3 separate regions of the Homo sapiens genome follow, and regions 1 and 3 are each linked to region 2. The links come from fine-mapping of genetic effects on gene expression. A gene starts in region 2. Each other region holds a variant in brackets. All regions are shown on one strand. Distances are from middle to middle.

Evidence for each region. PIP is the estimated chance that this variant, and not a neighbour inherited with it, causes the effect.
Region 1: its variant is fine-mapped to the expression of ST8SIA6 in whole blood (TOPMed, PIP above 0.99). The same link has a PIP of 0.9 or more in T cells and blood mononuclear cells.
Region 3: its variant is fine-mapped to the expression of ST8SIA6 in pancreatic islets (PISA, PIP 0.95).

What each region holds. Positions count from the first base shown.
Region 1 is chr10:17,503,031-17,511,215 of GRCh38, reverse strand. No RefSeq gene overlaps it. Among named protein-coding and RNA genes, the nearest start is that of ST8SIA6, 53 kb to the right of the region's middle. The variant C/G (reference allele first, on the strand shown) is at 4,606.
Region 2 is chr10:17,451,380-17,459,564 of GRCh38, reverse strand. ST8SIA6 (ST8 alpha-N-acetyl-neuraminide alpha-2,8-sialyltransferase 6) reads left to right here and starts at 4,970. Exons shown (of 8, transcript NM_001004470.3): 1 at 4,970-5,410; 2 at 5,908-6,006. The coding sequence starts at 5,310.
Region 3 is chr10:17,559,263-17,567,447 of GRCh38, reverse strand. No RefSeq gene overlaps it. Among named protein-coding and RNA genes, the nearest start is that of HACD1, 54 kb to the left of the region's middle. RefSeq lists an enhancer at 4,504-4,798. The variant G/T (reference allele first, on the strand shown) is at 4,747.

The sequences.
Region 1 (8,185 bases), 52 kb before region 2:
TTAGTGGCCACGCAATCTGGATAAGTCACTTAACCTTACTGGATAAAAAATGCCTTCGCTACCGAAGATGGGAACTGGACCAAATAATCCCTTAGGCTCACTGCAAAACAGCAATACTTCTATCCAGCTGCTAAAATTTTGTACGATGTCTCTGGGCAGGATTATTGTCTTTTAACATTCCCTTCTTTTTTCAAATATTATACAATGATAATTTATTGCTAGTTAAAATTATTTAACCAAGAATTTGCACTATTAGTACTTCTTTTTTTCCCCAGCTAAAGAATTGCTGAAATGTTGGCATTACAAATTTAAGAATTTTTGCTAACATAACTCTGCTTTCCATATGTTATTTCAAAAATGGGCTGGGCATAGTGGCTCATACCTGCAATCCTGGCACTTTGGGAGTCTGAGGCAGGAGGATCGCTTGAGCCTGGGAGGTCGAGACCAGCCTGGACAACATAGCAAGACCCCATCTCTACAAAAAAAAAATCAGATGGGCATGTTGGCACGTGCCTGTGGTCCCAGCTACACAGGAGGCTGAAGCAGGAGGATTGATTGGGCCCAGGAAATCAAGGCTGCAGTGAGCTGTATTTGTGACACTGCACTCCAGCCTGGATGACACAGTGAGACCCTGTCTCAAAAAAAATTTTTTTAATGTAGTAAAATGTGTAGAATTAATGATCTTGATCCTAAATCATTAGCAACACTGTCAACTTGAAGCACTAGAACAGAAAAGAGAAGCTGTTCTCTGGTATCACAAAGGCCACCAAAACTCTTGTTTGCGGTTAGTGCTGTGAGAGGTTCAACTTTAGAGTCCCAAGTTCCTTGTGGGTTGTGAGACCACAGGCCAGTTTTTTAGTATCTCTTTTTTGCTACCTGTAAAAGGAGAGTTGCTTTATGAATTAAATAACTGCAAAGCTTTATAGATAGCGTCACACTGTAAAGGGTAGATATTTACCAGCATTTTATAAATTAATTGTGCTAACAGAAGGAAATTCTTTTCCAATATTTTTTTCTCTGATTAAAAATATTTTTATTTGTCATATCATAGTCTCTGGCTACAGATTGCCAAATACAAGCTGTTATTTTATTTGCAATAATTTTCATTATCTTAAATTCAAATCTCGATATAATGTGATACATTTGCTATGTTTTGATTCTTTAAAACAGGATGTTTTTATTAGAATAGTCGTACTCTAGCCACAGTAAGAATGAAAAAATTGAAAGACTCAAAAACAAGTCATCATTACTTTGTTTATTTTCATCCAAGTATAATACGTACTTGAATATCATCTCTAAAATACCATTTCTACCAAATGAATTTGTTCACTAGTGTGGAAATATAGAAGGGAAAATAAAATTAAGGAAACTTTTAAGGAATTATTAGAAGTTAGACGTGTGTTTTTGACAACAAAGCAGTGGAAATGCCTCAACACTGTGAACAATTTAATAGGGTAATATTTTAAAATCTATACTTTAATAAATATCAATTATATACACAATTAAGTTGGTTTTTCAAGAACCTGATCTAGACACAAAAACAAGGATGTGCAAATCCCAATTTAAATTTTTTTATTTCATTACATACAGAATATTTTACTAAAGTTGCTTAATATACAATCTCTCTCTTGTCGCTTTGAAGACCTTTGTCATGAAAACAATAATTCATTTGCCTGATATTTTGCAATAACATTCTTCTCAGTTATTATATTTAGTCTCATTACTGAATAAAATTTGTGTTCTCATGAAACAGTTTTCAGTGTCTTAGCAGTTTCTGGGGAACTCTGATGCATTAATCAGCTTGTCACTTGACTAGCCCATAGAGTGGTGTGCCATGCAGAAGTGAGAAGATGTGGCTTTCTCACTGCAAAGCTTCCCATCCATTAGACTTGTGTGTATCTTTTCTGTCAGGAAATGTTCTGCAGTTTTGAGATAAGATTGCTTCATGTCTGACTGCTTAGTTGGCAATGATCACAGCTTGTGAGTTCGGTTTCACCAAAAATGTCCGTGGACCTCACCTGTAAACTTTAATCCATGCACTTTTTTTTTCTTTGAGGTGTAGTCTTGCTCTGTTGCCCAGGCTGGAGTGCAGTGGCACGATCTCAGCTCACTGCAACCTCTGCCTCCTGGGTTCAAGCAATTCTCTGCCTTAGCCTCCCGAGTAGCTGGGATTACAGGTGCCTGCCACCATGCCGGGCTAATTTTTTGTATTTTTAGTAGAGATGGGGTTTCACCAGCTTGGCCAGGCTGGTCTTGAACTCCTGACCTTGTGATCCACCCCCTTGGCCTCCCAAAGTGCTGGGATTACAGGTGTGAGCCACCACACCCAGCCTATTCCATGTACTTCTTACTTTGCCTTCCCTGGGAAATCAGTTTCCTGGAATATACCAAGGGGCACATTCTACTCCTTTTGCAGCATTCCCAGAAAACCATCGGCGTCCATGCATATGTATACATGTTTGCATATGCATGAACATAGTCATTCATTCTGGCTTCCTTTTCGAGTGGCTTGCGTCATTCTGCCGTGTATTTCCAGAGATTTCCCAGAGATTCCCCAGCGCCCCTCTGATGACTGGCTTATTAGCTTTGCTTGCCTTCATGTCTCTGTATCAATTTCCCCCGTCACCTATCTGTATTCCTTGCACCTTTCAAAAGACTGCCATTTTAGTCCCTTCCCCCAAACCCTGCAAACAGGAATGAGCTATTGTTTCTGTGTTGTATCGTTCAGCTTTCTGGGATTCTGCCATACGGTCTAAGTTTGGAAGTGTTCAGAAAACCCTTCAACTCAATCCCAGTTTGTCTGCTCTTTCTTCATCGTGTCAGAACTGGCAATGGCGTTCTGGTGGCTTGGATGGATACCGCTTTACTGCCTGATATAGTTTGGCTGTGTCCCCACCAAAATCTCATCTTGAATTGTAGCTCCAATAATTCCCATGTGTTGTGGGAGGGACCTGGTGGGAGGTGAATTACAGGGATGGTTTCCCCCATACTGTTCTTGTGGTAGTGAATAAGGCTCCCAAGATCTGATGGTTTTATAAGGGAAACCTCTTTCACTTGGTTCTCGTTTTTCTCTCGTCTGCCACCATGTAAGAGATGCCTTTCGCGTTCCGCCATGATTGTGAGGCCTCCCCGACCAGGTGGAACTGTGAGTCAATTAAACCTCTTTTTCTTTATAAATTATCCGGTCTTGCATATGTCTTTATCAGCAGCATGAAAATGGACTAATAAACTGCACATCTTTCAGGAAGCCACTGACTTACCCAGAAGTTTGTCCACACATCTGGTCTACTCACCAATCAAGGCACATATGTTGTCAAACTAGCTCTTCATTGTCACTGGGGACAGAGAACCTATTTCAATTCTCCATCTATTATTAAAGACTGTTATTTCTCATAATTCGCTGGGCTCAGTTGAGATGTTCTTCTGCTCCAGTGAGTGCGTGCTATGGTCACTCCTGTAGCTGCATTTAGTTTCTGCTGAGGCAGCAACATTCAAGTTGAGGTTGGTCGTTCACACATCTGGTACCTCAGCTGGGTGATGGGACTGGCTCGGCCTCTGTTTCTTTTCTTTTTAAATTTTTTTTTTTTTTTCAGAGAGAGGGGTCTGCTCTGTGGCCCAGGCTGGGGTGCAGTGGTGCAGTCATAGCTCACTGCAGCCTTGAACTCCTGGGCTCAAGTGATCCTCCTGCCTCAGTCTCTCAAGTAGCTGGGACTACAAGCACACACCACCATGTCCAGCTAATGTTTTATTTTCTATAGAGATTGGGTTTTGCTGGCCTGGAACTCCTGGCCTCAAGCGATTCTCCTGCCTTGACCTCCCAAAGCACTGGAATTACAGGCATAGACCACTGTCTCCATGTGGTTTCTCACCATGTTATAGTCTAGCCTATAATAAATGGCTTCCAAGAAAGCGAAAGTGGAAGCTACAAGTTCTTTTAAGGCCTTGGCTTAGAAGTCTAGGTGAAGTGATGTCCCATCACTTCCATTATGTTCTCTTGGTCAAAGCAAGATACAGCATAGCCCAGATTCAAGGGGGAGAGAGATAGATTGATGAATCTTGATGAAAGGAGTGGCTTGCACATTCAGGGACTGTGGCAATTATTGGCAACCATCTTTGGAAATGATCTACCATTGCACCTAATCACCCTCACTGGTGGTCAAAACATCTTGTTTCTTCTCCTTTCCTAATTACTTTGACTACTCTGGCCAGAGATTTACTTCCCATTTTCACTGGGTCTTCAATCTACAAAAGCTAGTCCTCTCTTGATAATATGCCTCTTTTATACATATTCGACAGGGCATAGCAGTACCAGTGGGTATGCAGCAGAGATATCACTTATATAACAGCATTGGTAGTACCTTTGGTAATTATTTAAATAGTTCCTTTTGTGCTTAAATCTAATTAATTATTTAAAACAAAACAAAACAAAACAAAAAAACTGTAGACTTCTCAAGATGAATCTGTTTACATAGTCTTTACGAGAACCTGGAAACTTTGCTGTAGCTATTCAACTGTTCCTGTCATATAATCCTCTTCGCGTCATTTTATAAGAGGCACACATAACAGGAAGTTCGAGCTGACTACTTGCAAAATTAGCCTCCTTTT[C/G]CTAGAATTTTAATGGGTGTGAGATCTAAGAAATTTATAGTTGCTCTTCTGGAGCTGCTGCTTGAAGCAACTAGTTGGCTTTGTCCTTGGGGAAACCTGTCGAGCCTTTCTGTCTCATTATCTCTCAGAGTTTTCTCCTAATGGAATAGGACGATGGACCTTAATGGTTTATCCTTCTTTCCCCATCCCCTCTCCTCAGAGAGTGCTTCTTGAATTAAAAACAGGTAGGAGATCAGTCTTCATGTAGAAGTGTTTCTTCCTTTTTTATCTTTTTTATTCTCCTCCTTTTTTTTTTTTTTGAGACAGAGTCTCACTCTGCTGCCCAGGCTGCAGCGCAATGGCATGATTTCAGCTCACTGAAACCTCTGCATCCTGGGTTCAAGCAATTCTTATGTCTCAGCTTCCCGAGTAGCTGGGATTACAGGCATTCGCCACCATGCCCGGCAAATATTTTTTTTTCTGTATTTCTTAGGAGAGACGGGGTTTTGCCATGTTGGCCAGGCTGATCTCAAGCTCCTGACCTCAGGTGATCCACCCATCTTGGCCTCCCAAAGTGCTGAGCCACTGTATCCGGCCTATTCCCCTGCCTTTTGTTATTATTTTAGTTCTAGGGAAAATATTTTCCCTAGCACCAAAATAATTTTGGGTCAGTATTGCAGAGATAAATTTTAAAGCCATGTTTTATATATCTTTAGTATGAAAAGAAATTATTTACTATTTGCCCTTTTCTCAGTAGGAATATCATTATTCAGATGACAGAAAGGTATGGCCTTTCACCTCATTTTACAGATATTTTGAAACCTCTTTTTGCTTCTCTAAAGGAGAAGTTCAAGGAGCAAAGGAATTTGCTTATTTAATTTGTTTTTTTATAGCTATGGAATAGAACCATTTAAAGAACAGCGGCCAGGCATGGTGGCTCACACCTATAATCCCAGCACTTTGGGAGGTCGAGGCAGGAGAATCACTTGAGCCCAGGAGTTTGAGACTACAGTGAGCTATGACTGCAGCCACTGCACTCCAGCCTGAATGACACAGTGAGACCCTGTCTCTGAAATAATAAATACATAAATAACAGGGAAGCTTTTCATCCTCACGTTACTATTGTTTGATTCCACATGACTTGCTTGGCCAGAATAAACCTAGTCTCATTCAACAGGTAAGGCAGATGCCAGGAAATGTCTATGTAAAGGCAGATGTTCTGAAGGGATACCATTGGCCAAGTGGGCAAGCATTAATTAGGGGGTCTGGTGAAAGTATTAGAGTGCTCTGAAACACTGGTCTGGCTTGGTGATGGAGATTGCTGGCACAAGTAATTTATGGAGCCCTAAGTGTGAACTGTTAGAGAAGTCTGTCATAGTTAGCGAGGACTCCAGCCACTACCAGGGTTTCAAGGCGGAAGTTGAAATTTTCCAAGCAGTTCATTAGCAGGAGCAAGACAGCACGTTAGTGCAAGAAGAGCTAAGTTTCTAGACAAGATTTCTCACTGGGTAATGAGAGAAAGACCATTTATCAGACATGCAACAGAGGCATCAGAATGCATTTTTACTGCTTGAGTTTGAACTCTTCAAATTCCTTCTAAGTGAGCTGTCTGCAGTGGTCACTTGGCCTCCTTCCTGAGAAGTGAAGACTTCACAGATTAGGGACCCTGCAAGCCTCATCGGTCGCAGTGCATTGTCTCTTGCACCAACTGTGACAAAGTATGTGAGAAGTTAGTGACTGTTTTTATAGTAAGAGATTTTCATACTTGTGATTCATATACTGCCATATTTTAAGTGGGGTTTTTGTCTCCAGGAAAATTTTTAAACGCTTTAAGTATAAAAATTCCTTCCTGTGTTTGACTCTGCAGGATGGGATGTAGTAGGTTACAGTAGTGGACAGAGGACGATGGGCATGAGGCTAGATTGTGGAAAGGGTTTAAGGATGTGTAAGATTCAATGAGAGGGGAGAAAATCTCACTAACTTTATAGTTGCAGTGAAGGTTGAATCAGATGTGGACCACTGCAATATCCATATCCACAGTTGATAGTCAAGACCCCTCATTTCCCAAATTAACTTTTTTTTTTTTTTTTTGAGCCAGGTCTCACTGTGTCACCCAGGTTGAAGTGCAGTGGCATGATCATAGCTCACTGCAGCCTCAACCTCCCAGGTTCAAAGCTATCCTTCTATCTCAGCATCCCCTCCTTCAAGTAGCCAGGACTACAGATGTACACCACCACACCCAGCTAATTTTTTGCAGAGATGGGTTTTTACCATGTTGCCTATGGTTGGTCTTGAACTCCTGGGCTCAAGGGCTCAAGGGATCCTCCCACCTTGGCCTCCCAAAGTGTTGGGATTATGTGATTGAGTCACCATGCCTGGGCCCAAATTAACTATTATTCACCAAACCCAGGCATTTACAATTTTATTACTCTAGACTTAGCTGAAAAGGCAAGGATTAAATGAATTGTATAGTCTGATCTCTTCCCAAGATAAATTTTAGAATTTCATAGACTGTAACAAGAATACAACTTCTAATAATATTTTTAAAATTCCGTCTCAGGTCAGGAAAATAAGATTGTGGGTTTTTTTTGCAAACTCATCTTTTCTGTCCTCGAGTCTGTCCTCAATTCAAGTCAACGAGCATATGTTAAGCACCTCTTGCACACTCCAGTGCCATGCTAAATGTTTTAAGCAAAGCCAAATCAGTCGAAGAGTTAACCTTAAGATCCATTCATTGAGCATTTCTTTTGCCAAACACCATGCTCGTTGCTTTATGTACATGTCTTATTTAACCCTCTCGATAATCCTTCGAGGTGTTGATCCAGTTACTACTGCTGTGCTAAAAATAACCCCAAAACTTGGTAGCTGAAAATGACCATTTTATCATGCTCGCAGCTTCTTTGGGTCAAGAATTGAGCTCATCTCTCTTCTCTTGCATTTTATCACAGACAGAAAGAAAAAGTCAAGTGGCTCTTTTAATATTTTCTGGGGAAATTTGCTTAGCTAGATCATCAAATTCCTTAAGCATATTTTCTACTTTTAAAATTTTTTTGTAATTATCATTTTCTCATTGTGTATTTTTAATTTTTTTATTAATAGTTTTTGGAGTACAGTTGGTTTTTGGCTACAGGGATAAGTTCTTTAGTGATGATTTCTGAGATTTTAGAGTATTCATCTGCAGAGCACTGTACACTGTACCCAATATGTAGCCTTTTACCCCTCACCAACCTCCCAACTCCTCCACAAAGTCCAGGACATCATTCTTATGCCTTTGCATCCTCATAGCTTAGCTCCCGCTTATAAGTAAGAACACACGATATTTAGTTTTCCACTCCTGAGTTACTTCCATAGAATAAGGGCCTCCAGCTCCATCCAAGTTTCTTCAAAAGACATGATTTCATTCCTTTTAATGACTGAGTAGTATTCAGGGTGTATATGTACCACATTTTTCATCCAACATTTTCTGTTTTTTTCACATTACCACATGTGACAGTGTGGCCAGACTTTCACCACTAGGCAAAATGATTTTGCTTTCCTCCAGCTTCTAATGACATTTTCCTTGCTTGTCTGCAAGTCCCCACCAACAGCCTTCTCCAGCCTA
Region 2 (8,185 bases):
GTAGTTTTAGTTATACTCTTTAAATTAAAACTACTTTATGCATAGAATTACTTTATTATTATTATTATTATTTTTTGAGACAGAGCCTCACTCCATCACCCAGGATGGAGTACAGTGGTGCCATCTCAGCTCACTGCAACCTCCACCTTCTGGGCTCAAGTGATCCTCCCACCTTTGCCTCTAGAGTCGCAGGGACCATAGGTGTGCACCACCATGCCCTGCTAGTTTTTTTTTCTTTTGGTATTTTTTATAGAGGAGGGGTTTTGCTATATTGCCCAGGTTGATCTCGAACTCCTAGGCTCAAGCGATCTGCCCACCTCAGCCTCCCAAAGTGCTGGGATTACAGGTGTGAGCCACTGCGCCTGGCCCCCAATCTTCAATATTCCACTAACAGCGGTCAAAAATCTGTAATAAGACATATTTGGAGAGATACTGAGGTCATTGATTTTTTCAAGTCATTTCTACTTTTACTTATGTCCTATGACTTATTGAAAATATGTAGTCTGGCAGGGCGCGGTGGCTTACGCCTGTAATCCCAGCACTTTGGGAGGCTGAGGTGGGCAGATCACGAGGTCAGGAGATCGAGACCATCCCGGCTAAAACGGTGAAACCCCGTCTCTACTAAAAATACAAAAAATTAGCCGGGCGTAGTGGCGGGCGCCTGTAGTCCCAGCTACTTGGGAGGCTGAGGCAGGAGAATGGCGTGAACCCGGGAGGCGGAGCTTGCAGTGAGCCGAGATCCCGCCACTGCACTCCAGCCTGGGCGACAGAGCGAGACTCCGTCTCAAAAAAAAAAAAAAAAGAAAAAAAAAAAAAGAAAATATGTAGTCTTGGTTATCATAGTCTTATAAACGTCCTCCCCAAGGTATAGCTTAATGTTATAAATGACCTATTGTCCTGTAGTCCTCACAAATCTTTAACGTTACAAAAACCAGTCAAGCAGTCTGAAACATCAGAAATCATCCTTTCTAAACAGAGAGGTAAAAATGTCTCCCGAATGAAGAAAAGAGTCTTTGGTGCATCAATTTTTTGTGCGTTTCTCACAGCATTCCTTTTTTTCCTTATATTGAAGATGTTCATATATACCAGTGAGATATATTTGTATCTGCTATGTATTTAGTGTGTATATACATAGTATACATGTATATGCATTCTATATACACATATTTATTTATATAGTGTGTGTATATATACACATAATCTATGTAGAGATATAGCATATCTATGTACACTCATTCACTGTTATATATCAGTAAGAATCTTCAATATAAGGAAAAAAATTATGGAGATACATTATAGCTATCAGTATATATACATACTATGTAAACAAATATATGTATATATAGTTTCTATACATTTATATTATATACATAATATATAATCATGTATATACACAATATAATATAATATACATAATATATATACATAATATTATATAACAATTTGCATATGCATAATTATATGGAATGTATATGCATAGTATATATATACATAATGTATAATGTATATATACATACATATATAGTATAATGTATCTAGTGTGTATATATACATTATATATTATATATGTAGTATATATTATGTATATATGTAGTATATACTATGTATATAATATATACATAATATGTATACATAATACGTATGTGTATACATAATGTGTATACACAATATGTATATAATGCTATATATTCTGTACATTATGTATTATGTATATAGTGTATATACATATATATTATGTATATATCAAATGTCAGGTAGACTCTTGATATTTGTGATTCATCTTTCTGAATCCCCAAATCCACACTTATGGAAATCTTACACGTTTCTAGCTTTCCCCTGAATCATCTTTTTTGTGGAAAGTCACTTGTTAGCCAAATAAGAAACCTTACACTCCAAATCAGAAACTTCAACTTTCAAGATTTCCATAGGCCTGGAGACTTTTTATATATCGAAACTTCCCAATCATTTTTTAAAAGTTATTTTATGAAGGTAAGGACATTCATGATGATGAATAAAGAATAACAAAGACAAAATGAGAGGCCCATGTGGAGTGGACTGGGTGAGTGAGGTAGGCTCGCCACTTACACAAGCTTGGGAGCAGCATCCGGATGTCAACCTGAGTTTACGTTTCAATTCCTGGCCTCAGCAGCATTTCAAATTACTACATGGCATAGATCTTTAGGGTTGCAAGTCAAGCCTGGAAATGTTAAGCTACCAAATGCACACTTTTCCAGTAGTGGTTCTATGGCTAATAATGTTAAGGTATCATTTTCTTGTCAGGTTTCTTTCTCTCTCAAGGATGAGCAAGATAATTCATATCTTACCCACCCAGGTCTTAAATTAGAAAGCTTGTGGTAAAGTTCCCTACTGTCAAATTTTAACACTGGGCTCAGAATTCCCATTGCAAATTTACACTTGTTTTTCCAATTAAAATGGGCTTTTGTGAGTCCCCTGCTGATAGCCATTGGCTTGATAAAAAGTAACTTCATTTGCAGCAAGGGTGTTTAGGGAACCCAGTGCAAGGCTGACTCTTCTGCTGTTGCCTTGAGCCCAGCTGTGCTGAAATATTAAACTTTAGTAAATTAGGTGAAATTGCAGCTTCCTGGCTGATACAATAATGCCTTTTTCTTTTTCTGCAAACCATGTTCAGCATTAGTTTTCTGCACAATTTTCTGCACTGAGATAAAAATTGGAATATCTTTCAAATCCAGGCAACTCTTCATTTTCTAGATGATTGTGCCATATTCTACTTATTTAACAAACGGCTTAAACTTTGAAATATGTAGAACTAGATTTCTGTATTATTCTATCACTACCTGAGTATAGCATTACTTTATGTCATACTCAGATGAAGCAACTGAATCCCTACAAATATTAGTTTTATATAAAAGTAGAAGCCTGTTTTTATTCCTGATTAGTACATATATTAACAGCAGTGATGAGCTATAGAAGGAAATCACATTCCTAGTCACATTTATTTTTAGTTTTTTTGCTCCATTTTCTCTTTAAAAATAACACTAGTTCTTATGTGCTTTTATTCATTGACTAAACATTTATTGATCAATTATTATGTGCAAACTTCTGTTTTGTATTCAACAAGATGTTTTTAGAGTAAATCCGGAATTAGCAGAAAGAGACTAGGGACACTGGTATCTCTTGCCTTGATATATGTTTTCTTGTGATGGAATCTTTGGTGACAGCTTTATTTGGCTGTCTGGCCTGGTTGCTCCCAAATGGCTCTCACTTGGGCCTCTTTCAGGTGAAGACCATATGCTTCTAGGAGATGTCAGTTGAAATATCATATTTTTGTTGCTTGGGAAAGTTAACTCATGAAAGCCTTTTCAAAATTGAAGTCATTTCAAAAGATCTTATCAAGGTACTCCCAAGATGGTGGAATCCAAGGGTTGCATTTGGAAAAATCTCGAAACTATACAAAAGTAAGAGTGAATAATTTTATAAGCCTGCATATAACCACAATGGAATTAAAACCTAGGGAAGTGGCTAAGTGGGGGCTTGGGCAGTCAGGATAGTTTAGGGCATAGAGAGTTGAGACCCACTTTTAAAAAAATAGAGAGCCAGTCTGTTTCATAGTGTCATTGGATCACTCTCCTGCAACAGATGAGATACTCGTAAATGAGATACTAACCAATATGATCTAGACCGTGGTTTAGTTCTGGCTGCCATAAGAAGGATACCATAGGCTGGGTGACCGAAAGAACAGAAATTTATTTTTCACAGTTCTGGAGGGTAAGAAACCCAAGATCAGTGTGCCAGCATGGTCAGGTTCTGGTGAGGGTCCTCTTCCTGCTTGGCAGAAAGCTGCCCTCGTGCTGTGTCTTTACACTGCACAGAGCAGAGAGAGAGGAGGCAAATTCCCCGCTGCCTGCTCTTATGAGGGAACTAATTCCACCAGGAAGCCTCCACCCCATGAACTAATCAGGTATGAAAGGCCCCACCTCCAGATACCACCACATTAGATTGGGGATTTGGGTTTCAACATATGAATTTTGTAGAGACACAAACATTCAGCCCATAGCAGTGTTAAAAGAAAAACATCAGACAAATTAAATTTAGCACAGTTTATTCGAGCAAAGGGTTCATGAATTGGGCAGCACTCACAACCAGAGGAGGTCCAGTGAGGTCCACCCCATGGTGTGAGCAGCAAAGCCTGATAGGCCAAACTCAGAAGCACAGTGGAGAAACTGATTGGCTATAGCTATGCAGGCTGCCTTGTGGGGCCTGGTATAATGAGTTGGTTGCCCATGATTGGCCAGTAGCCCCCTGTTCATTACAGCCTAATGTAGGTTTCCATTGTTAGGTGGGAACTCAACGTACAGAGACAGCCTCAAGCTAATGGCCTCTTGCTTATTTAAGAGCAGTATGCAAACTTTTCCTGGAAAGTTTCAAATGGTAAATATTTTAGGCCCTGTGGGCTATGCCACCTCTGTCATCACTACTCAATTCTGCCCTTGCAGCCCTAGATCATACAGCCATATGCAGTCACTGATAATACAAAGCCATGGGCATGGAGGTTTTCCAATAAAACTATTTGCAAATACAGGCAGGGGCTAAACGGGTCTCCAGGTAGTAATGTGCTCATGCCTAAAGGTCTCCTAGCCCCTCATACCAGTTCGCTGTCCCTCTGAATCTGGGTTGAAGTAAGCACAGGTTACTGCTTCTGTTCAGTGTCATGATCCACCCAGCAATTCCCCAGTCCCCAGCTTTCTTCATGCGTGGGAGGATCCAGCCAAGCGACTGCACAGTTTTGAAAGTTTTTGAAGCGGCCCCTTTTTCTCCTCTCCTCTCTCCGCAGGCAGAGTTGTGGTGTGGCTGGGTGGTCTGCGTGGGCGTCCGGGGGATTCGCGGGCACTCGGGACGAGGCGAGGGCGCAGAAAACTTGGAGCCCAATCAGCACGGAGTTGAGCTTCCGCGCCCCAACCTTCAGGTGACCCCGCGCGGCGGCGGCGGCAGCAGCAGTGGCAGCGGCGACCGGAGCCCGCAGCAGCTCCGAGCGCCTCCGGGAGGACAGGCGGCGAGCTCGGCGAATCGTCATCTGCCAGCCGATCGCGGCGCTCCGCGGGCCGGGGCCGGGAGCCCGGGGCGAGCCCGAACGCGGCTTCTTCTCCGCCCGCCGCGGAGACTCTGCCGGGTGGGCTGCGGGCGCCCCTCGCTGCCGCCTGTGAACGCTGTGGGTGCGCGGGGCTGCGGCCACGGCGGCGGTGGCGGCGGCGGCGGGAGCCGCGAGTCGGGGCCGCCCGGGCTGTGCTTCGCCCCGGCAGCAGCGGTGGCGGCGGCGCCTGTGGCTCAGGATGCGGCCGGGGGGCGCACTGCTCGCCCTGCTCGCCAGCCTGCTGCTGCTGCTGCTGCTGCGCCTGCTCTGGTGCCCGGCAGACGCGCCCGGCCGCGCCAGGTAACCCACCCACCCGCCGGCCGCGCCCCGCGCCGCGCGCCCCGCCTGGCGCCCCCGGACCCCCAAGCCGCCCATCGCTTCCCCTCGGGCGCGGAGACTTTTGGCCGCGGCGGGGAGCAGCCCACGGGCGGCGACGGCCTGAGAGTGGAGTGGGGGAGGGGGTCGCAGGGAGGCGACCCTCCGACCGGTGGACGGCGGCTGGGGAGCAGAGGGACCGGTCAGGGCTGCGGGGGCTCTAGCGCGCATCGCTGTGGGCGAGGCAGCTGTGGAGCGGGACCTGCCGTCGGGTTCCGCATCAGGATCTCATGCTCCCCATTCTGGTCCTTGCTGTCTCTTCCTTCCCGCCCTAAGGCTCTTCCAACTCTGGGGCTGGGGACCTGGCCTGGGAGCCGGGGAGTGCGAGATCTCCCTGCCAGGCAAGGAGCGCGACTCCCAGCCTTTCAGCCAACAGCTCCCGGCGGGGTGTAGCAACTTAAGTTTTCTCCCCGGCTGTGCAGGATTCTGGTGGAGGAAAGCAGGGAGGCCACCCACGGCACCCCCGCAGCGCTGAGGACGCTCCGGAGCCCGGCGACCGCGGTACCGCGCGCCACTAACAGGTACAGCGGCGCCCAGCGCGGGCGGACTGGGGCTCGGGAGCTGCGAGCCGGGCATGGGGCGCGGCTGCACCGGCTTGGACTCGTTGGGAGTAGGCAGGCTGGGACGGCGCGAGTGAGTGTAAGAGTGTGCGTGTGTTTGAAGAGGGCGCGGGGTTGGGGGGGGGCACCCTTCACACTCCCTCAACCCTCTAAGCCTGGATGTGAATGGTCTTTGAATCAAGGGGGATCCTCCAGCAGCTGCATTTGAAAAACGGGTGCTGAGTTTTCCTCTCGACAATGGTGTGTTGAAAGCACCCCCGCCCCCGACCCCGCCACCTTTGGAGAGAAGCAGCTCAGCCTGTCTTTATGGAGGGATTTGGTTGGTTTGCTTTTTCTTTTCTATGCTTTAAAGGGCACCGGTGTTAAGATTCAGGTTTGTTTTGCGTGCTAGGAATGATTTTGTCCTTAGTGACTGGAGGCTTAAATTTTTTTTCTTATCATTCACATGTGTTTTTATTCATAGGCAGTAATTGTTTTTTTTTCAGATTGTAAAAGTAATACAGCTTTGTGCAGAAAGTTAGAAAATAGAACTGTATAAAAGAAAATGTTATTCATTCAGAGTCCTTACCTCTCAGAGACCATATTCAAGGTGGTTTTGGTCTATATTTCTTCCAGTAGTCTTTTCTATATACATATATTTCAAAAATATAACTTAGATTATACATTGCAGTTTATGTTCTGCCTTTTTTCTAAAAATCCTAGACCTATACCTGTCATTACATTCCCCTCCCCCCACAAAAACATTGCTTTGGATTGTTGCATAACTTATTATCTGAACATGCCATAATCTATTTAATAGTTTCCATTTTCAGACATTTAGGTTGCTTCTTGTTTCTGTTTTATTTTGTTTGCCATCAGTAATTCTATGAAATGCATCCTTGTATGTAAATCTTTATCTTCATTTCAAATTAATTACCCAAGATGGACAGACAGGAGTTGAGATTAGTAAGTCAAAGAGTATGTACTCTTTAGATTCTAAGTCACATTGTCAGTTGCTTCCTCGAAGGGCTGAATCAATTTACATTTTCACAAGCAGAATGTACTGCTTCCTGCCTTAGCATTGCTATTATGATTGCAATCTGCTATACGGTCTCTTTTCCTCTTTTTATCTCTTGCAAATCCCTTTTCTTCTGCGTATGCTTCTCTATATTCTTGGCTCTTGGATCCACCTTAATCTTCTGATGGTGTAACTCCAGGAAGCTCTAGCACGGCTCTAAGAAGGGTCTGGAAGTGGCTGGATAAACCCTGAATTGAGGAACACCACTGCCTGCCACCCCCTCATTGGAATTTCACAGCATATTAGAGGCACTAGGACCTCCTGGAGTAACAAAAGCTTTTGAGAAAAATAGTGTCCTATAGTTTTATTCTATTCAGGTTGGTGTACTATAGGTAGCCTAGCTTTCTTGATGAGCTGAGAAGCATTCCATCTTTTCCCGAGTCCTGTGGCTATTACACATTCGAGGGTTGACCCTTGGGGAAAGTTGGAAAGAATGTACTCATTAAATGGTTTGATCTCAGGTCGTTTTTAGAGGTAATCTTTGATGAATTTTTCACTTTCTTTTGACATACTTCTTTTCTACTTGGCATACTTCTTGGGCTAATATAGGTAACTCATAATTCTGAATATGGCCCATTTTATTAAGCTTTCTAAAATTTATACCATTCTGTGTTTGTAAAAGCCTCTTTATGTTTTGATTTATTTTATGTCCCCTTTATCATTTATGATTTTGGTTATTTATGGAGCAGGGGTGCAAGTTTTAATCCACCATACTACTTGGTTGTATAGAGAAATTGTAATTTCTTCATTTTTCTGGAGCTGGTCTGATCTTCCCACATGAGCCTCATGGTAATAATGCTGGTAGGAATAAGGAGAGCCAACAGTTAATGAACTCTTCTTATGGGCCAGACACTGATCTAAGCACTTGACATTTTTAATTTAAAAATTTTTCAAAATAGGTTTAGGGGGTAAAGTGCATTTTTGTTACATGGATATATTGCCTAGTGGTGAAGTCGGCATTTTAGTGCAACCGTCACCCAAATAGGGTGTACTCATTGTACCCAATGGATAATTTCTCAGCTCTCCCCTCACTCTCACTCTCCCACCTTTCTGTGTCTCCAGTGTTTATTATTCCACAATCTG
Region 3 (8,185 bases), 110 kb before region 2:
GAGAATTTCTGATAAACTATAAATTGTAACTGGCAACAGAAAAAAATACCTAGTCTAAACAAATCTACTCTCTACCATACCTTAGTACCATGCTACTCAACTATTTTCTAGCAAAACAAAAACTTTTGAGGTGTGGGGTTCGGTTAACAAGTGATTTTGGCATGATTTTTCAAAAGAGCTGTTAAGCTACAGAATTCACTAAGCCATATAACAACTTTATTAAAGAACTATCCATATGCCAACACTGTGCTCTGGGCATGAAGGCATAAAAGGTTGTTCCTGCTCTCAAGGGGATTACAGTCTTTTTTTTTTTTTAAAGGACAAATCAACTTGCAATTAAAAATGTACATGTCAAGTGCTTTGCGAATATGCTATTGGAGTACGGAAGAGGGCCAATTAACTCAGGAGAGACTCTGCAAAGGAGGGCAGGCTGGAGCTGAGTCTTGAGGGATTACGTAGATTTTATTTACACAAAATATAAATAGATGTTTGTTTATTTTTAAAATTTTTTTCTGTGCTGGGCAGAGGCAACAGCAGCCTGACCAAAGGCATAGGGTTCTGAAGGAGTTTGATGGGGAAAATGCTGTGGTTTGCATATGAGTCCCTTCAAAACTCCTATATTGTTACATAAAGCCCAAGGTGATGGTATGAAGAGGTGGGGCTTTTGGAAGGTGACTGGATAGGATTGGTGTCCTTATAAAAGGGCTGGAAGGAGTGAGTCTGTCCCTTTTTTGCCCTTGTAAAAATGCATCAAGAAAGTGCGACTGGGCCGGGTGCGGTGGCTCACTCCTGTAATCCCAGCACTTTGGGAGGCCGAGGTGGGCAGATCACAAAGTCAAGAGATCGAGACCGTCCTGGCCAACATGGTGAAACCTCGTCTCTACTAAAAATACAAAAATTAGCTGGGCGTGGTGGCGGGTGCCTGCAGTCTCAGCTACTCAGGAGGCTGAGGCAGGAGAATTGCTTGAACCTGGGAGGCGCAGGTTGCAGTTAGCCGAGATTGCACCACTGCACTCCAGCCTGGGTGACAGGGAGAGACTCCATCTCAAAAAAAAAAAAAAGAAAAAAAAATGCACCTGTAATCCTAGCACTTTGGGAGGCCGGGGTGGGTGGATCACTTGAGGTCAGGAGTTCCAGACCAACCTGGCCAACATGGTGAAACCATGTCTCCATTAAAAATACAAAAATTAGACAGGCATGGTGGCACATACCTATAATCCCAGCTACTTGGGAGGCTGAGGCAGAAGAATCACTTGAACTTGAGAGGTGGAGGTTTCAGTGAGCCGAGATCACGCCACTGCACTCCAGCCTGGGCAACAGAGGGAGACTCCATCTCAAAAACAACAACAACAACAACAACTAAATTTTGACATATGAATGCATCCTATGGCCATAAGCTCTCAGACTTTCTTTTCTTTGGTTTGATCTTGGGCTATGAGATAGTTTACATGTATCCATCAAAGAGAAACCTGCTGTTATTGGCTGTAGAGTAGTTAATCAATAATTCTGTTTTTCTTTATGATATTGGGTAGGGTATTTTCAGTGTTTATTGATATGATAATTTGAAACCAAACCTATGAAGTTTTTTTCTTAGATGAAAAAATGAAGTCTAATCAGGAAGAAGGGAGATGACAGGTAAGAGAATAGAAGAGTTTATATTGAAAGAGAAAGAATGGAATCAAGGTTTTCTGTATGGGGGCTACAACATTTTAACTTGAGATTTTCTTTCCTGTTGCGTTCCAACTTGTTTCCTTCTCATTTCTTGCTAAAGCTAATTAGAAATCCTCAAACTAGGACAGGCGTGGTGGCTCATGCCTGTAATCCCAGCACTTTGGGTGGCTGAGGCAGGTGGATTACTTGAGGTTAGGAGTTTGAGACCAGCCTGGCCAACGAGGTGAAATCTGATCCCTATTAAAAATACAAAAATTAGCCGGGTGTGGTGGTGGGTACCTATGATCTCAGCTACTGCGGAGGCCGAGGTATGAGAATCACTTGAAGCTGGGAGGCAGAGGCAGCAGTGATGCAGTGAGCCACGATCATGCCACTGCACTACAGCCTAGTCTGGTCAACAGAGTGAGACACCATCTAAAAAAAAAAAAAAAGGAACTCCTCAAACTAAAAGCAGGTAGTAGAGTAAAGCTAGCTACTTTAACCAATGTATCCAGAAGTCTCAGCAGGTTAACATAAAATCAAAAAGGATGGGCGTATAACCCACCTCCGTGCAGTGGATCCAGGGACCTAGGCTCCTTCTATCTTATGGCTATGCTGTCTTTAACATATGCCTTTCAAGATCAACATGACTGTCTTTATCACTCTAGCACAGCAGAAGAGACACACAAATTTGCATGCAGGCAGTTTTTATGGGCCAGATGTGGAAGTAGTATTCATGGATGTTCCACTGGCAAAAACATAGCTGCATAGCTAAAACAAATTATATACAATGCTGGTGCCCAGGAAAGTATAGAATGGTACTTTAGAATCGCATTAACATGGCCAGATGTGGTGCCTCATGCCTGTAATCCCAGCACTTTGGGAGGCTGAGGCGGGCAGATCATTTGAGGTCAGGAGTTTGAGACTGGCCTGGCCAATATGATGAAACCCTGTCTCTATTAAAAACACAAAAATTAGCTGGGCGTGGTGGCGTGCACCTGTAAACCCAGCTACTTGGGAGGCTGAGGCAGGAGAATCGCTTGAGCCCAGGAGGCAGAGGTTGCAGTGAGCTGAGATTGTGCCGCTGCACTCCAGCCTGGGTGACAGAGTAAGACTCAGTCTCAAACAAAACAAAACAAAAAAACAAAACAAAACAAAACAAAGAATTGCATTGACAGTGATTACTAAGATGACCGTTTTTTTCAACGTTTGCATCTATGGAATTCTTGATGCTTTAAAAATAAATTTCAAAGAGCTGTTTATCTAATAGGGACATTTATTTTTCATCTATTGCTTCTCCTGCAAGTTTTCTTCCTCTCTCTGGTTCCTTATAGTTATGGGCTTCCAACACCCCCTCCGCAGTGGACACACGTGCTTTGGCATATGCAAGCTGATTATATTTTGCTTTGTGATGTCTCTCTCTATAATTTGAAACTATAGAAATCCACATTTAGAGGGATCTATATGGGGCTTTGTATTTTATGCCATTGATCTACATGTTTATTTTTTCCATCAATTCTGCCCAGTAGGTAGTTGAAAGGTATTACAGAGATGAGGGAACAATGTATATGATGAAAAAAAGAATCAACCAGTTAAGTTTGCGTTCAATTTCCTTATTCAGTTGATTTGATTTCAGTCTCTCAAATAACAGCTGAGCGTGTGTGTCTGTGTGACTGTGGCAGGAAGATGAGGAGGTGGGGATGGACAAATGAAAGTAGTGAGAGATTGTGGAGGACTGAGATAGAGCTAGTAAAGCTGTGAGCTGCTAAATTGTTTGGGGTTCATGCTGTTGAAGAACAAAATTTCAACATATTTTGTTAAAATATCAAATTGGCTTTTATTAGCAATTCATGAATTAGGTAGCATCTCATTTATGAAATAGAAAAGACCCTCCAATGGGCTGAGCAGAGGAGGTGGGCTTTATAGGCATACAGAGCTGCAGAAGCAGAAACAGGGAACAGAAAGCCAACTGGTCATTTCCAAGTTACTCTACTTCTAGGATTCAGGCTGAGAGAACTTTCTCATCATGCCTATTCAGGGTGACTAGGCTCCTTTTGACTGGCTGCGGTGAGTTTCCTATTCCTTGGAAAACCATTTTAAAGTTCAGTTTGACTATGTGGTACTTAGCATGACTGACTCCATTCTGGTTTGCTCTGGTTTGTTGGGGCTTAGTGCAGGAGCTCAGTCCAAAACAACGCCCTCCTATTAAATTTCATTTGGCAAAGCAATAATGATTCTATATTTGTGTATTGATTTCATGAATTCCAAACAGCTTCTGAATCGTCAGACTTGTTGGAGCACAACGTTGTATTTGATTATTAATATCTGATTTAAACAAGGTTGCAAAATGAGTCATCAATGGCAGTGAACTAAATTCAGGTTCTCATATTTTCCCTAAAACTAATCAAGCGAACAACCTAGAGAGGTATTAAAATTAAGGACACATAAAAATGCTGTCAGGAAGGTAGCAGTGTGGTGTTTAATACAATAATTTTGCTTCTTAGGAAGACAGGATAAGTGACTTTTTGAATAAACACTGCAGTAATTGTGTATAGAATTCATATTTCTTCATGCTGAAAGACAAAAAAAGGAATTACTTTGAGTGCAAAGAAATTTATAGCTCAGTTTTAAGTATGCATTGAAAAGTGGAATTAAAGCTTCCTGAAGCCTATTTGAATTTATAATGAAGGAAATTCAGAAGTAAAGCAGTGTCGACTTGATATTCCCAATGTTGTGACCCTTCCTAAAACTCTTTGGGTTTCTTTATCATATAAAATTTGCTTGCCGCAGAAATATTGGCAGTATATGAAATCTGGACGGAATCCAGAACCTAGTACAGTCCAGGGAAAAATGTTCTTTCGGGCGCTGAATATATAGAGGCATGACACAAACAAGCCTTCATCTATTTATCATAGTTCATGGTCTGGTCATGTCCCCTGCCAAAGCTTTTCTGGGAAGCCGTAAGACGAAAATGATTTGCTGGCCTAGCTTCTGACTTGACTTCATTCCTCTCTGTGGGGGATCACTTTACATTTTCTTAATTGCAGGGACAGCTTGTGTGGTTGGCAGTTGTTTGAATTGAGAAATGGACTTTAA[G/T]GAACTACGGTTTCTTTGGCTCAGCTGGAATTTAAGTAGTCATAGACTAAATTAACAGCCACGGTCAAAGCCCAGATGACAGCTGTGTCACAGAAAAGGAAAGGTAAGGGTTTATTTTGTGCTACTATATTAGGATCATGCTCTTAAAATAATGAGTTTTGCAACTTCACACTTTTGAGTCATACTGCCATTTTTTAAAGGTACCAAAAGGCTCCTCCAAGGTAATGTTACGAACCTCAGGTGTCAGGATAGGAAATGTAGCCTGGCCGATTGCAGATAGTAATTTGTTTTAATCTTGTGATTTATAATACGTAGTTTTTGCTTCATTGTGACCGAATGCAATAGGTCGTGAACATTATTTCCATTTAACATCTAAGGTTACAAATGTGAATAAAGTTTAAGTCGCATGGACGAACAGAATAAAAATTAGAACTGTCATCCTTAACCTTTAATTTTACAAGTGGTACCACCTCTACTACTTCTACGGACATCACAAACATTTGTTCTTGCATTTTAAAGACCTTATGCAAATTAAGGCTAGGCACGGTGGCTCATGCCTGTAATTCCAGCACTTTGGGTGGCCGAGGGGGGTGGATCATGAGATCAGGAGTTCGAGACCGGCCTGGCCAACATGGTGAAACCCCATCTCTACTACAGTGACCGGATGGTCGCTCTTCTTGCACATTAAATTTTCATAGGTAGAGTGGGGTTCAGGAGTCGCTTGCTTCAGTGCTAAAATAATGTCACATGCATCCCACCTCTCTGTTCTACTGCAGGGTGGGCTATGTTTTCAGGCCTTAAAAAAGTGACCAGTGATGGTTTCAGGCTCCTCGGTTTAGTTAAAAGAAGTCCAATTTCAAACATGTCCTTCCTCCATTAAAACCAGTGGAAGTGGGGAAAACAACTCTCTTCAGAAACCCTCGAACACCGCAGGATTCAGTGAGTTTGTGTATCTGCTCTTGAACCAATTACTGTGGACGAGTGCATGAAATAATTTGGCTGTGCGAATCAGGGTCCATTTCTGAGGCTAGAGATGGAATTTATGTCACCCAAACCACATGGTTGACAATAAAGTTTCCTTAAAAAAAGTTGGTGTCATAATAAAGGGAGATAATATTTGCTACCAAATAGCGACATTGCATTTATACCATGCTAACAATTAAGAACAAGTACAGAAAACTTTTGCTTCTATACAGAAGTCGGTAAGTAGCAGCAGGTCATAGCTTCTGCTGCAACAATTAGAGCAAGCAGATGAATGACAAAAATCATAGTTTTAAAGACCATGGAGAGACGATCAAGCAAAGAGAACCAGACCAGTGGTTCTCATGCTTTCACATGTGTGAGAATCATCCAGAGGGCTTGTTGAAACAGACTGCAGGGGCCCATGCTGCAGAATTTATGAATCAGTAAGTATGAGTTGGCATTTATTCTGTAATTCTGCAGTAAAGGCAATAAGTCAAGTTGGGGAATGGTGAAAAGAACAAAGGTAGAAAGGACTTGGCATTCCTATTTCAACTTTCTTCAAAGAGTGGAAAAGCTGTTATTTGAAAAAAGGATTTACTTTATTTAGTGTGGTTCTTAAAGGTTGCTGTGGTTTGAATATTGAACATTTGTCTTCTCCAAAACTCACGTTGAAATTTATTCTTTTTCTTTTGAGATGGAGTCTCGCTGTGTCACCCAGGCTAGAGTGCAGTGGCCCCATCTTGGCTCACTGCAATCTCTGCTTCCCGGGTTCAAGCGATTCTCCTGCCTCAGCCTCCCGAGTAGCTGGGACTACAAATGCGTGCTACTGTGCCCAGCCAATTTTTGTGTTTTTAGTAGAGACAGGGTTTCACTATGTTGGCCAGGCTAGTCTCAAACTCCTGACCTCAGGTGATCTACCCGCCTAGGCCTCCCAAAGTGCTGGGATTACAGGCGTGAGCCATCGTGCCTGGCCTCAGGTTGAAATTTAATTCCCAAGGTGGCATCATTGAGAGGCAGGCCCTTTAAGAGGTGTTTCAATCATGAGGGCTCGGCCCTCATGAAGGGATTTCTCCATCACAGATTAATGGATTAATGGATTATCATGGGAGGGGAGCTGGTGGCTTTACAAAAAGAGGAAGAAAGACCTGAGCTAGCACGTTGGTGTGCTCAGTCCCCTGGCCATGTGATACCGTGTGCCCCACTGGGACTCTGTGGAGTCCCCACCAGAAAGAAGCCTCTCATCAACAGATGAACGGATGAAAAAAATGTAGTATATATACACATACACAGGCCAGCATGGTGGCTCACGCCTATAATCCCAGCACTTTGGGAGGCTGGAGGTGGGCAGATCACTTGAGGTCAAGAGTTCAAGACTAGCCTGGCCAACATGGTGAAACCCCGTCTCTACCAAAAATACAAAAATTAGTGGGGGGTTGGTGGCAGGCACCTGGAATCCTAGCTACTTGGGAGGCTGAGGCATGAGAATTCTTGAACCCAGGAGGCAGAGGTTGCAGTAAGCCGAGATCGTGCCACTGCATTCCAGCCTGGGAGACAGAGTGAGACTCCATCTCAAAAAAAAAAAAAAAAAAGAGAAAAGTAAAAAAAGAAAATGTAGTATATATACACAATGGAATATCATTATGGAATTTTATTTCATAAATAAGAATGAAATCTTGTCATTTGCAGCAACATGGATGGAACTGGAGGCCATTATGTTAAGTGAAATAAGCCAGGCACAGAAAAGCAGATGCTCATGTTCTCACTCATGTATGGGAGCTAAAAACAGTGCAACTCATGAAGATAGGGAGCAGACTTGTGGTTACCAGAGGCCAGGAAGGAGTAGGGAAAGGGGATGAAGGGAAAAATAAGGATATAAATGTTTCTGAGGCATGGCTGGGTGCGGTGGCTCATGCCTGTAATCCCAGCACTTTGGGAGGCCGAGGCAGGCAGATTACTTGAGGTCAGGAGTTCGAGACCAGCCTGGCTGACACGGTGAAACCCCATCTCACCTAAAAATACAAAAATTAGCCAGGCATGGTGGCGCGTGCCTGTAATCTCAGCTACTGGAGAAGCTGAGGCAGGATAATTGCTTGAGCCGGGAAGGCGGAGGTTGCAGTGAGCTGAGAAAATGCCACTTGATTCCAGCCTGGGCGACAGAGCGAGACTCCATCTAAAAACAAAAAATGTATTTGAGGCAAGATGGGTAGTCAAGGAAATGACCACGTTCTTGGGACGTAGCAACCGTGGTGACTGTACAGTCAACACAATAAGCCTCAGCATTTGCATTGTAGTTGAGCTCATTCAAGCAAAGTTATCTTCAGTAGGGACTTTCTCCTCGAGAGTGCACACATATTTTGATTTTACCTGTCCTCAAACTCACCCTTTGATCATTATAATAGTAAAAAACACACCCCAGTGTGGAGATTTAAGATGCTAATGAGACATATGATGTATGAAGAAGCATGTACAGCTACTG